Regions from separate parts of the Homo sapiens genome. Here region 2 is reported to be linked to region 1. Evidence: microRNA targets listed by miRTarBase, many of them from high-throughput screens and not tested one by one. Region 1 holds a microRNA gene; the other region holds the end of a gene's coding sequence.

The links. Region 1 holds the annotated microRNA hsa-miR-4530 (CCCAGCAGGACGGGAGCG, at 4,295-4,312, shown strand). A microRNA usually pairs through its seed, bases 2 to 8, with sites in the 3' UTR of a target mRNA and lowers its output. Matches are read on the target gene's strand: a 7mer-m8 pairs with bases 2 to 8, a 7mer-A1 pairs with bases 2 to 7 and ends in A, and an 8mer does both.
Region 2: the mRNA of SCN4B is a reported target of hsa-miR-4530. Seed matches in the 3' UTR shown: 7mer-m8 at 2,208-2,214.

Annotation. Positions count from the first base shown.
Region 1 is chr19:39,405,785-39,413,940 of GRCh38, reverse strand. It overlaps MIR4530 (microRNA 4530), which reads left to right and starts at 4,263; the gene lies at 4,263-4,318. ZFP36 (ZFP36 ring finger protein) reads right to left here and starts at 7,094. Exons shown (of 2, transcript NM_003407.5): 1 at 7,013-7,094; 2 at 4,534-6,198. The coding sequence starts at 7,036. The coding sequence ends at 5,242. It overlaps PLEKHG2 (pleckstrin homology and RhoGEF domain containing G2), which reads right to left and starts at 1,272. Exons shown (of 19, transcript NM_022835.3): 1 at 529-1,272. It overlaps TRI-TAT1-1 (tRNA-Ile (anticodon TAT) 1-1), which reads left to right and starts at 1,681; the gene lies at 1,681-1,773. RefSeq lists silencers at 181-240, 351-420, 431-570, 3,531-3,850, 4,201-4,260 and 2 more and enhancers at 1,671-1,720, 1,731-1,830, 3,913-4,503, 4,766-5,403, 5,404-6,042 and 3 more.
Region 2 is chr11:118,134,454-118,137,453 of GRCh38, reverse strand. It overlaps SCN4B (sodium voltage-gated channel beta subunit 4), which reads left to right. Exons shown (of 5, transcript NM_174934.4): 5 at 334-3,000. The coding sequence ends at 427. Among named protein-coding and RNA genes, the nearest start is that of SCN4B, 17 kb to the left of the region's middle.

The DNA.
Region 1 (8,156 bases):
AATGGGGGAGGCACAAAGTGACAGAAAGAAGGGGACAAGGAGAGAGAACCTGGCGAAAAAGATGGAAAGGCTGAGACAAAGAAGAGTGAGCGGAGCAGGAGGCGCAGAAGCTGCGAGTCCCGTTTGTCTGGGGCCGGAGGCTTAGGGATCCTGGGAACGTTTGGGCTCCAGCTGGAGCGGAGGGCGAGGGGCAGGGCTGGGAAAAGCCGTGGGCGGGAGGCCGCGGGGTCCCAGGGGAGGGCGGAGGCTGGGGGACCGGATGCCAGGGTCCTGCAGACGGCTCCCTCCCCCGCCGAGGGCTGCGCGCTGGGGCGCTGGCCCCGAGCCCTCGCACCCCCTCCGGCCGGTCTCTCCGAACCCCGATCGCCGTCCCCACAGCCACAGCCTCCCCAGCGCCTTCCCACACCCCTCCAGCCCCCAACTCCCGCCGGCGCCTCGGCTCGCCCCCCGCCGGCACGCCCCCTCATTGTTCAGCAGTGGCGCCGCCCCCTCCCCCAGTCCGCCTGGGCCCCTCGCCTCCCCCCTCACCTCCCGGGGAGCCTCCAGCCCCGGCTCGAGGCAGCCCGGCTCCTGCGCGACCCCGACGCGGTCCCCAGGGAGGTGCGGAGCCCAGACTCAGGGGCGTGAACTTCGGGCTCTCAGGCTCCAGGAATAGAATCTGGGGTCTCTCGGAGACTGGGGTCCCGCAGTCGGAATTTCTCAGTGTTCTACGTAGGGGATGCTAGGAGCCTCGACTCTGGAGTCTCAGATGGCGGCGCTGGGGACCCACATTCCTAAGTCTTCTAGGTAGGGCCGTGGGGTGGGGGATGGATTTCTGAGTTCCCCTAATTCTAGGGGCAGGAATGAAACTCCCTCCAGGTGGGAGCACAGGGGGGTCCCAAAGTCCTGGGTCCCCTTGAAGCGATGGCCGCTGCAGCCCGAAACTGGTTGGGGCGCTTAGAAGTCCGGATCTCAAGTTCCTCCAACGCGGGGTCTTGGGATCGGAGCCCTGGAGGGAGTCTGCGGTCCTGGATCCTGAGTTCTTGAAACGGGGATACGGGGCGCTCGGCCTCCAGGGTCTCGCGGGGTGACGTCCGGGCTCCCGGCTGCTCCAGGAGGGGGCGCTGCGCACCTGGATGGCTCAAGTCCTCCAGCCTGGGCGCCGGGGTCTGGACCTCGGGGTCTCTCAGGATGCGGTGCAGAAATTCCGGACGCCCGGGTCCGAGCCTCTGGACCCCTCGGGCTCCCGGCTGGGTGTCACGGGGCTCGTGTGACGGCGGCGGCGCCACATCTGGGGCGGGAGAGTCCGATCCCAGCTGTGAGGCGGGGGGCGGTCGCCCGGGGCTTCCCCTCCCCCGCTGTCGCCGGGGCTCACATCCTGTTCCCGCCTGCGGGGGGGGGAGGGGCTGCCTTCCGGCCGACCCGCCAGCGAAGGGTTAAGACCCCACCCCTTGTTTTGAATATTCATGAGGAGGCGTGTCCTTCTGGTAGGCGACACCCCTACATTCCAAACGCCTCGCGGACTTTTCCCTTTTACAGCAAGGGCCGCGAGGCGTGAGAATCCGGAACTGGCAATGCACTGTCTCCTATTGGTCAATGCAAAATGTTTAATTTGCATATATAACACAAGGCGGGGCCCTCCGGTGAGGTCACGTGGCTATGAACCACTGAAGAAGACCCCGGCGCAGGGGTGCGGCCGGAGCTCCAGTGGCGCAATCGGTTAGCGCGCGGTACTTATATGACAGTGCGAGCGGAGCAATGCCGAGGTTGTGAGTTCGATCCTCACCTGGAGCACTTTTTTTCCCCATCAGTTTTTATAAACTTACACATCTAATAAACCAACCAAAACATCTACATCACTTAGATGAATGAACGTTTCTATCTTTTGAATTATTGGGCTCAAAAGACTCCTAGGGCTTTGGCGACGGTCCTTTGGGTGTTCTGTATTGTAGGGAGGTGCCGTTTCCGTCCCAGCCACCAGGTGGGGGTATCGTCTCTTATTAGATGCTCTGGGCATGGAATTGTGTGCAAACAGTTTGACTTCTGTAGAGATGTGGGTCCTCGGCAAACTGTATATGACTCTGCCTCCTCTGTATTTCTCTGTCTTTTTAATGCCTCCTTTACAGATGAACATAGCTATCTGTCTTGGAGTTTTCGACCTCTGTTGAAAAGGAAAACTATGTTTTTGAGTCGACTTGTTTTTTCAATAAATATTGAACATTCACTATGCCTGGCTTCCTTTAGCTGTGTGTAATACAGCAGTGAACAAGTAGTCCCTGCCCCTGAGGACGCGACATTCTAGTGGGGAGGCAGATTGCTGTCAACATAAGAATTAAGTACATTTTAATGTTAGGTGGTGATGATAAATGTCATGGAAAAAGTCGAGCAAGGTAGGGAGGATGGGGTAGTTGGAGGTGGGGTGTGGATTGCAACAGCAGTGGTCAGGGAGGATCTCACAGAGAAGGCAACTTTTGAGCAGAGACATGAAGGAGGGGAGTGAGCCATGGGGACACCAGGGGAGTGTTCAGGCAGAGGGAACAGCTAGTGCAAAGCTCCTATGGATGAAGCAGACCAGACTTGGTAGAGCAGCTAGGAGGCCAGTGTGGCTGGAGCAGAGTGGCCAAGGGGGAGGGTAAGCGATGGGTGCCAGATTGTGTGGGCTGTGGGGAGGACTTCGGACTTTGACTTTTATGTGACCTGACTCAGGTCTCATAACAGGCTTCCTTTGGTTGTCTCGTGGGGGAGTGGAGAAAGGAGAGACTGAAGGCAGGGGCTAGAGCAGAGACTGGGGCTGGGGCTGCTATGAAGATGCAAATGGCAGACGATGTTGGCTAGGACCAGGGTGGGGGTCATGGTGGGGGCAGGTGGATAGTGGATCTATTTTGCAGGTGGATCAGACAGGATTGCTGTTGGACTGGGGTGTGGATTTGAGAACAAGGTGTCAAGGGATACTCCTGGGTGTCTGGCTTAAGCCCTGGTAGATGGTGAGAAGTGCCGTTTTCTTATATGAGGGATTTTTTGGGGAAGGGGCAGAGAATCAGATCTGGCTAAAGGAAGGACCAGAGATGTTGTTCTTTCAGTCTCCAAGACTGTTTCTGCAAATGTCTCTTCACTGCTTGCTCTTGGTCTCTGCCCCTCTGCTGCCTTTGCATCTCAGGGGTTCTGACTCCCTCTCGCCTGATCCTCTTCTACTTATTAGGGCCTGAGCCCTTTCCCACAAGGGAAGCAGTTTCCTGGAAGAGGAGACCAAATGTCAGTGAGCAAGGGGAGTGGGCCAAGGAGGCCTGAGAGCAGGAGGGAGGCTTGAGGAGGGTAGAGAGAAGGGAGAGGAGGGAAAGGGGCTTCAGAGGGAGAGAGAAGAGGAGAAGGAGTAAGGCTAGGGGGAGGAGGGGAAGAGGACAATGGGGAGTGGGAGGGCAAGGAAAGGGTGGAGAGGGAAAGAAGGACGGAAAAAGGGAGAGAAGGGAGACGGGAAGGAGGAGAAAGGGGGTAAGAGACGGCAGGATGGGGAGGCTGGAAGTGGGAGAGGAGTAATGAGGGAGGGGACAAATTGGAGGGGGAGAGAAGAACAGAAGGCAAAGGGTGTAGGGCGGGGCAGAAGGGTGCAGAGGAGGAAGTGAAAAAGAGGAGGAAGGGTGAGGGTAGGGAAAGGAGAGAAGAGGGAAGTGAGAGGGAGGAGGGAGGAGTGCGGGGCAAGGAGAAAAAAGAGGGGTCGCAGGGGGCGAAGGCTGGGCGGCAGGGCCGAGCCGCAGGCGCTGACGCAGGGCGGCTTCCGGGCGCGGGGCCCCGGGGTTGGTCCCGACGACGCTGGCCTTGTATGGTCTGAAGACGCGGCTCCCCCGGGGCCCCTCCTAGACGCGCGGCCCCTACCCACACGCCCTGGCCTCGCGGGGCCGACCCTGGTCGGTGTGCGAAGCCTCGGACTTCCAAGGTTCGGAAATGCCAAGACCCGGTAATTCCCGGGCTCCAGGGTCCCGGGTGGCCAGAAATCTGCAACTCCGAGCCACCAGGGGTCTAGAGTCTAAAGCGCTAGGGGATGCAACCTGTGACTCCCAAATGTTGAGATCCTAGCCTCTTGAGACCCTAAACCCGCTTCCCCAACATCCAGAAGGTGTCGAAGCCCCCCCGGAACCTCTAGTCCCGAAACGGGTTCCGCTACCCCAGGCTGCCCCGCCCCGCGCCCGCCCCCGCTCGCTCTGGGCGCGCGCCCCAGCACATTCCGTCCTCCCCACCCGGCCCCTCCCGCCTCCCGCGGCCCCGTGGGGACGGAAACATCCCGTCCCCGACCGCACCCGCCCGAAGCTGGGTCAAGGAGCCCAGCAGGACGGGAGCGCGGCGCCCCCGACGCCCGGGAACTGGCTCCCCCGGTTCCCATCTGGTGACCTCACCTGGTCCCACCCTTTCAGGTGAACGGCCAGGCCCGGTGACGTCACTTCCTGCCAGGTAAGCGCCGCGGGGCTCGGAGAGGAAGAGTTAACTGCACCCAGCTTCCAAAAAGTCACCCCCTCCCTCTCCATTCCTGTCTCTAGACCGCGAAGAAGCCAGGATCCCAGCTTACACTCAGATTGTTTATTTAAAAATGCCCAAAACACAAAAATAGACTTTTAAGGTAATAATATATATTACTAAATATATTATAGTCTACTTATAATAATTATATCGTCGTTTTCAATATTACAAAAAAAGGAAGAAAAATACAAGGGAAGCAGACGACCCAATATATATAAATACTATAAAATCATATTAGAATAAATAAAGTCGTCATAAATAAAGGGCCCATTGATTTATGGGTGGGGTTTGGCAACGGCTTTGGCTACTTGCTTTTGGAGGGTAATTTGAGCACCAGGATTCCCCCTCAGGAGAGGTTCCAGTTACCAGGAGACACTGGAACCTCAGGTCTATAAAAACTGGAGGGGCAGTGAAGGCCTATTATTCACAGCACATAAGATTCTAGGAGACAGATTTGGGCAGGGAAGAGGTGGGGGAGAGGGTTCATTGCCTCCCTTAAATATGCTACAATTTTTTTTCCCCCAAGAACCTCGGAAGACACTCCATCCCCCACCATCATGAATACTGAGCTTGCACACTTGGGGACCTGCCCCAGCGTGAGGTCAGGGGAGTGGGTTAATGCATTCTGGAAAAGGGGATTACTTGATTACTGTCCCCCAAGTCCCCACAGCCCTGGGGTCCATGCAGAGACCACAGTGCAAGAGACGTGGCTCCCCGCTGAGATCCAGCTGATCTGACCGGGCAGTCACTTTGTCACTCAGAAACAGAGATGCGATTGAAGATGGGGAGTCGCCGGGGGGCTGCCACGGGCTGGGGTGGTGCAAAAACTCCCGCCTCGAAGACGGGAGAGTCAGAGCCCCCCAGGCTGCTGCCGCTGCTGGCATATTCATCAGGGTCGGATCCCAGGGACTGTACAGAGGGGGTCCGAACCAGGCCACCCAAGGGCCCCCAGACGCTGATAGGAGTGGCCCTTCGGCAGGAGGGGCAACAGACTGGGGTGGGGTCTCTTCGAGCCAGGGGGGTGCCAGGGGCAGCAGAGAAGGCAGAGGGTGACAGTGGAAGGTCCCCAGGTGGTGGTGGGGAGCTGGAGGGCGAGAAGGAGCTGGAGGACAGGGAAGGGCCGGCCAGGCCTGGTGGTGGTGGTGAGGTCCGGCGGCCAGAGGGCAGGCCGGAGAAGCTGATGCTCTGGCGAAGCACAGGAGGGTGGCCCGGGGCCGCCAGGTCTTCGCTAGGGTTGTGGATGAAGTGGCAGCGAGAGCCGTAGGGGCAGCGGCCCTGGAGGTAGAACTTGTGACAGAGTTCCGTCTTGTATTTGGGGTGGCGATTGGCCTGGCGCAGCTCGCCCAGGCCATGGGCAAACTGGCACTTGGCCCCGTAGCGGCAGCGCCCACTCTCTGAGAAGGTCCGACATAGCTCAGTCTTGTAGCGCGAGGGGGTGGTGGAGGTTGCAGTGGGCGAAGTGGGTGAGGGTGACAGCTCAGGGCCCAGGCGGGGAGCCAGCGGTGCGAAGCCAGGGGGTGGGGGCACCCAGCCACAGCTGCGGCCCTCCACTAGGCTGGTGGAGCGGCCAGGCAGGCGGGAGGTGACCCCAGACGGGCTGGAGTCGGAGGGGCTCAGGCTCCAGGGTCCCGAGGAGCCCCAGCCTGGGCTGGACTCAGTCCCTCCATGGTCGGATGGCACGGGCACGTCAGGGCTCAGCGACAGGAGGCTCTGCGGAAATGGGTCGGTTAAGGCACCTGAAAATGCAGGGCGACGCCCCACCCCAGCTGCAGGGAACTAGAGCTTGCCAGGCCGGTTTGTGGGCTCCCCGCCTGAGCCCCACCCGCCCGCAGAAACCCCTGGGTTCCGGATGCCAGGAACCCAGAGTTGGAGGTTCTGAGTTTACCCACCACCGAGGCCTTATCCCGAGGGACCCAGGAATCCCGGCTTCCCCGGCTGGACCAAGAGGGGGACCCCGAAGTCAGGGCGCACCACTGTTTCCCAATTTTGGGTCTCTTGTCCTCCCCGGATATGACCCACGCGTCGGGATCTCCAGTTTCACAACTGGAGAAACCGGGCAAAGTTGACCTGGAAGTCCGGATTGCTTCGGTTTTAGGGTTCTCTGTCTCTACGGTCAGGGACTGGAGAGACAGAAGTCGGATCCCCCCACCCTGAGACTTCAGCCCCAGAGACGCCTCCGCGCAAAACCACGCCCTCAGCAACGACTAGGGGTGAGCCAGGTATGGGGGCCACTTCCGCCTCCAGGCAGCCTCGGTCTGAGAAAAGTTCTCCGACTTTCCACTTGCATGGGCCGCCCCACCCATGTTTGAGCGAAGAGCCGGGTGTCGCGGGTTCCATTTTCACCTCCAAATCACCAAGCTGGTCTGAGCGGGAGGCAGGGGCCCCAGGCTGGAGGGCGCGGCGCTAGGGAGCCCCAGTTGGAGAAGGGAGGCAAGCGTCCCGGGCTGGAGTTTGCGGCGCTAGAGAGGTGGGGACTCGGACTCAGGCATGCAGGTACCGGGGATGCCGTGCGGCGGGGACTCACCTCGTAGATGGCAGTCAGATCCATGGTGTAACGGTTGGCCATGAGGGGTGTCGGCCGAGAGTGGGAGCGCTGAAGTCAGGCTGAGGCTGGCACCGAGAGCCGGCTACTTATAGGAAACTGCAAGCACGGGGCGGGGCCGGGGCCGGGGCCGGGGGCGGGGCAGGAGGGGCGCTTCCCGGACGCGCGCCCCCGGCGCAGCCTGGCTGGCCCTGGACTGGTTCCCTTCCGCCCGGCCCTGGGCCAGGACGCGCCTGAGCTTGGCCGGTGGACAGCCGTGACCGAGCGGGGAATGCGTGGGGAAGGGGTGGGGGTGCGGATGGGGGGACGCCTGCCCAGTTTTCAAAGCTGGAGACTGAGGCTTGTAGAAGGAAACTGGGGCGGAGGTGGGGGCAGGGCCCCAGGGGCAATTGACAAGAGCAGAAGCCCGATGGGGGTGCGCGTGCGACACAGACGGATGGGGGCGGGGAGAGACGCAGAGGGGTACAGACAGGCAGACAGGCAGAGAGAAAAACATCGAGAGAGACACACACACCAAGAGACATACAGAGAGAGATAGACAGGGTGAGGAAGGGAGGGAAGACGGGGAGACAGAGACAGTCCCAGAGACAGATTCAGAGGGAGAAGAGGGTTGGGAGGATCACAAAAAGAAACAGAAAGGGGCTGAGCGCAGTGGCTCACACCTGTGATCCCAGCACTTTTTGTGTTTTTCTTTCCTTTTTCTTCTTCTTTTTTTTTTTTTTTGAAAGACGGGGTTTCCCTATGTTGCCCAGGCTAATCTCCAGCTCCGGGGCTCAAGCGATCCTCCCACCTCCGCCTCCCAAAGAGCTGGAATTACAGGTGTGAGCCACCAAGCCCGGCCAATCCCAGTACTTTCAGAGGATGAGGCAGGTGGATTACCTGAGATCAGGAGTTCAAGATCAGCCTGGGCAACAGTGAGATCCCATGTCTACAAAAAATACTATTTAAAAAAATTAAAAAGAAAAAGAAACTGGACAAAAAGGAGAAAGACTGTGAGAAATAAGCACTTACGGAAAGAAATCTGCAGAGCAAAGTGCCAAGAAAGAGCCAGCAGGCCTTGGAGGGGAATTCTCTGAGAACTGCCTGCCTTGTGTGGTCTCACTCCTAAACAGCCCAGACAGATAAG
Region 2 (3,000 bases), not on the chromosome of region 1:
AGTGATCTGCCTGCCTCGGCCTCCCAAAGTGCTGGGATTACAGGTGTGAGCCACCGCACCTGGCCAGTTGAGAACTTTCTACATGGCAGGCACTGTTCTAAGTGCTCATTTCTCCTTCCAGCAACCCCACGCAGAAGGTCATCCCTACCTCTATTTCACAAATGAGGGGACTGAGGTACAGAGAGGTTAGGTGACATGGCCTCTGGCTACCTTAGCTCTGTAGAAGGCCAGGGAGAGGCACAGGGCTGGGTGCAGGGCCCACGGCTCCTGCCACAATTCTCCCCCTACTCTTGCTCCTCTCCTCACCACTGTCCCTTCTCTCTCCCTCTCCAGGAAGGAGTGTCTCGTGAGCTCCTCGGGGAATGACAACACGGAGAACGGCTTGCCTGGCTCCAAGGCAGAGGAGAAACCACCTTCAAAAGTGTGAGCCCTGCTTCGGGCTGAGCAGCTGCAGGGAGCCCCCTTTCTGATGATGAAACTGATGCTTGAGCCCCGACCGTAGAACCCACGTGCCTGAGACATCTGCTGCTTGGCTCAAACTGTAGTCTTTCCGGGCACAAGAAACCAGAGTCCTGCCCAGCCTGCCCATCCCCTTCCCAGTCAGGGCTCCCCAGGGACAAGGGATGGCCAGGGGAGGGGGTCTGTGGAAGATTCAGGAGAAAGAAAGGAGAGGCTAGGGTGGTGTGGAGGGGCTGGTCCCCTGACACCTGGGCAGATGGGGTCTCCTTCAGTCTCCCTACCCTGCACAAGCAGGGCCTTGATTTTCCTCCAGGCTTCTCTTCACAAGAGACTGGGAGGATCCGTAAGGGATGTCCTAAGAGCTGCACCCTGGAGATGGGGTGTAGGAAGAAGTGGCTTCCTTTGGAGGTGGGAGTGGGCTGGAGGCCTCTGGAGAAGACCTGGGGTGGGGGCTGATGGGGGCAGGCCCACAGTGAGAGACTGCCTCTGCTTCATAGGATACCAGATCCCCCACAGTCTTCCAAGTAGGAAACTTCCTTTCCCCTGCCCCGGGACCCTATCTGCCTATCCCCTCCCCTGCTCAGAGTTTTTAAGCCCTCTCAACCAGGGCTGGCCACCCTGGTCTTGAGGGTTCCTGGCCACCTAGCCTGCTCCTCTGCTCTCTGGGTTACTGAGGGGCTCAGGAAGGGGCCCCTCGAGCCTTCCTGGAGTACCCGAGTGCTCCCTATGCCTTTCCAAGCATTTCTACTTGGGGAATTGGGCCACAGAGGTAGTGAGCCAGTGTCCTGGGCCTCTGGGATGCCCGCCCCATTGCTGCCAATGCTGGCAGCCCCTCCCCTGGCATGGCAGGACCATCGCCACTCTGGGCACTCCTGAGCCCAGCTCTCCCCTGCTTCTCCCCCTCCTACCTGAGAGGCTGCACCCTCCAACCTCCCATTGGCTCGCTCCCCCCCCCCCACCGTGCCCTCCATCACGCCCTGCCCCCAGGGTGGTTCATTTCCCAGCCCTGGGTCAAGGGCCTGCCTTCGCCTCAGGGACTCTCTTCCTTTGGATGAGGGGGTCCTTGGGTTTCCCAGCTGCTTCCTGCTCAGCTGGGCCACCCCCTCCCACCCTGGGGTTGGGGAGGAGCAGGGAGTGGGTGCCCACAGTTTTCCTTTGCTTCTCCCAGAGCTGGTTTGCACAGCCCTTGTGTGTGGGGCTAGAATGTGCCTTAGTCCTGAATCCTAGCCCTTACCCCCATCCTCTCTAGACGGTATGTCCTGACATAACAGCAGAGTCTGGTGTGGTGCTGGTGAGGGTTCGCCAGCCCTCCCCTCCCCAGGGTCATAGAGGGGGCCATGAGGCTGGAATTGGCCAGTGACTGAATCTTGGAGATGTCGGCCAGGTGCTCCCATTGGGGTTTCTAGCCTGCCCTAGGGGGAGGTGGTGATGTTGGGAGTGGGATCTCCTGAGTCCTTGTTGGGCAGAATTGGTGAGGCCAGGGATGGCAGGGAAAAGTGGTAACAAGCCTCTCTGCCCATCTACTTCCAATCCCTCTCTCCCTTACTGATTTTTTGATGCCCTGTCTTCTGGGCCCCTAGGAGGGATGAGAGAGGAGTAGCCCCCTTTTTCAGAGAGTTTGGGGTCTACCTCAGAGCTCTCCCTGTCAAAAAGCAGCTGCAAGCCTCGCAAGGGTGGAGTGGGGGGAGACTGAGGACCAGTAGTACCTGCAGGGTGCCCGTGGCTGTGGCCAGTGTCCCTTAGCCAACCTGCTGGGCTCACCAGTTCCCCGTCTGATCTGCCTGTGCGCCTCCCATTCTTCTCTACCCAGAACCTGTCATGGGCTGGGGCTCAGATTTTCCTGGCTTTGGGAGCAGACAGACCAGAGCCACCAGCCATTCAGAAAACTTCTTATAGCTACCTTCATGCAAAACTGTTTTCTTCTTCCTTCTCAATGGTGACATTTGAAGAGGCAGAGCACCTTGGGGCTCCTCCTTCTGTCTTAAGAGAAAGCCAAGGCACGTAGAGTAGGGAGAAGAAGGGCACCATCCTCTCTTTCCTCCCCAGGGTCTACTGCTGATTTCTAGATGGATCATGCAGCTTCTCTCAGCTCAGCTCTTTCCATCTACCAAATGGGTGTAATAATACTTACCTACCTCACAGGACTGTTGTGAGGCTTGGCAAGTTTTGTCTAAAAACATCTTTTTGGCTTGGAAAGGGATCTGGGAAGCCAGGTATTAATTGCAGGGATAGTTCCAAGTCTGTCCTGTCTTCATCTCTGTGTCCCATCTCTACAACCCACATACAGACACACACACTCTCTCTCTCTTTCTTTCCATCCCACCCCCCTTGGAATTATTTAGTCTTTGCAATATTAGAAACCTTGACTCTGATGCTTAAAGCTTCTTGTCCATGGCTTTTGTTTGATGGTTTTCAATAGAGGTGACTGAGATTGTAGGGGGGGCATTTTTGGTTGCCCCCATGCGTGGGGGCACTACTAAGAATGCTAAACTTAGTCCCCACAACAAAGAATCATCCTGTCCCATGTCAACATTATACCCA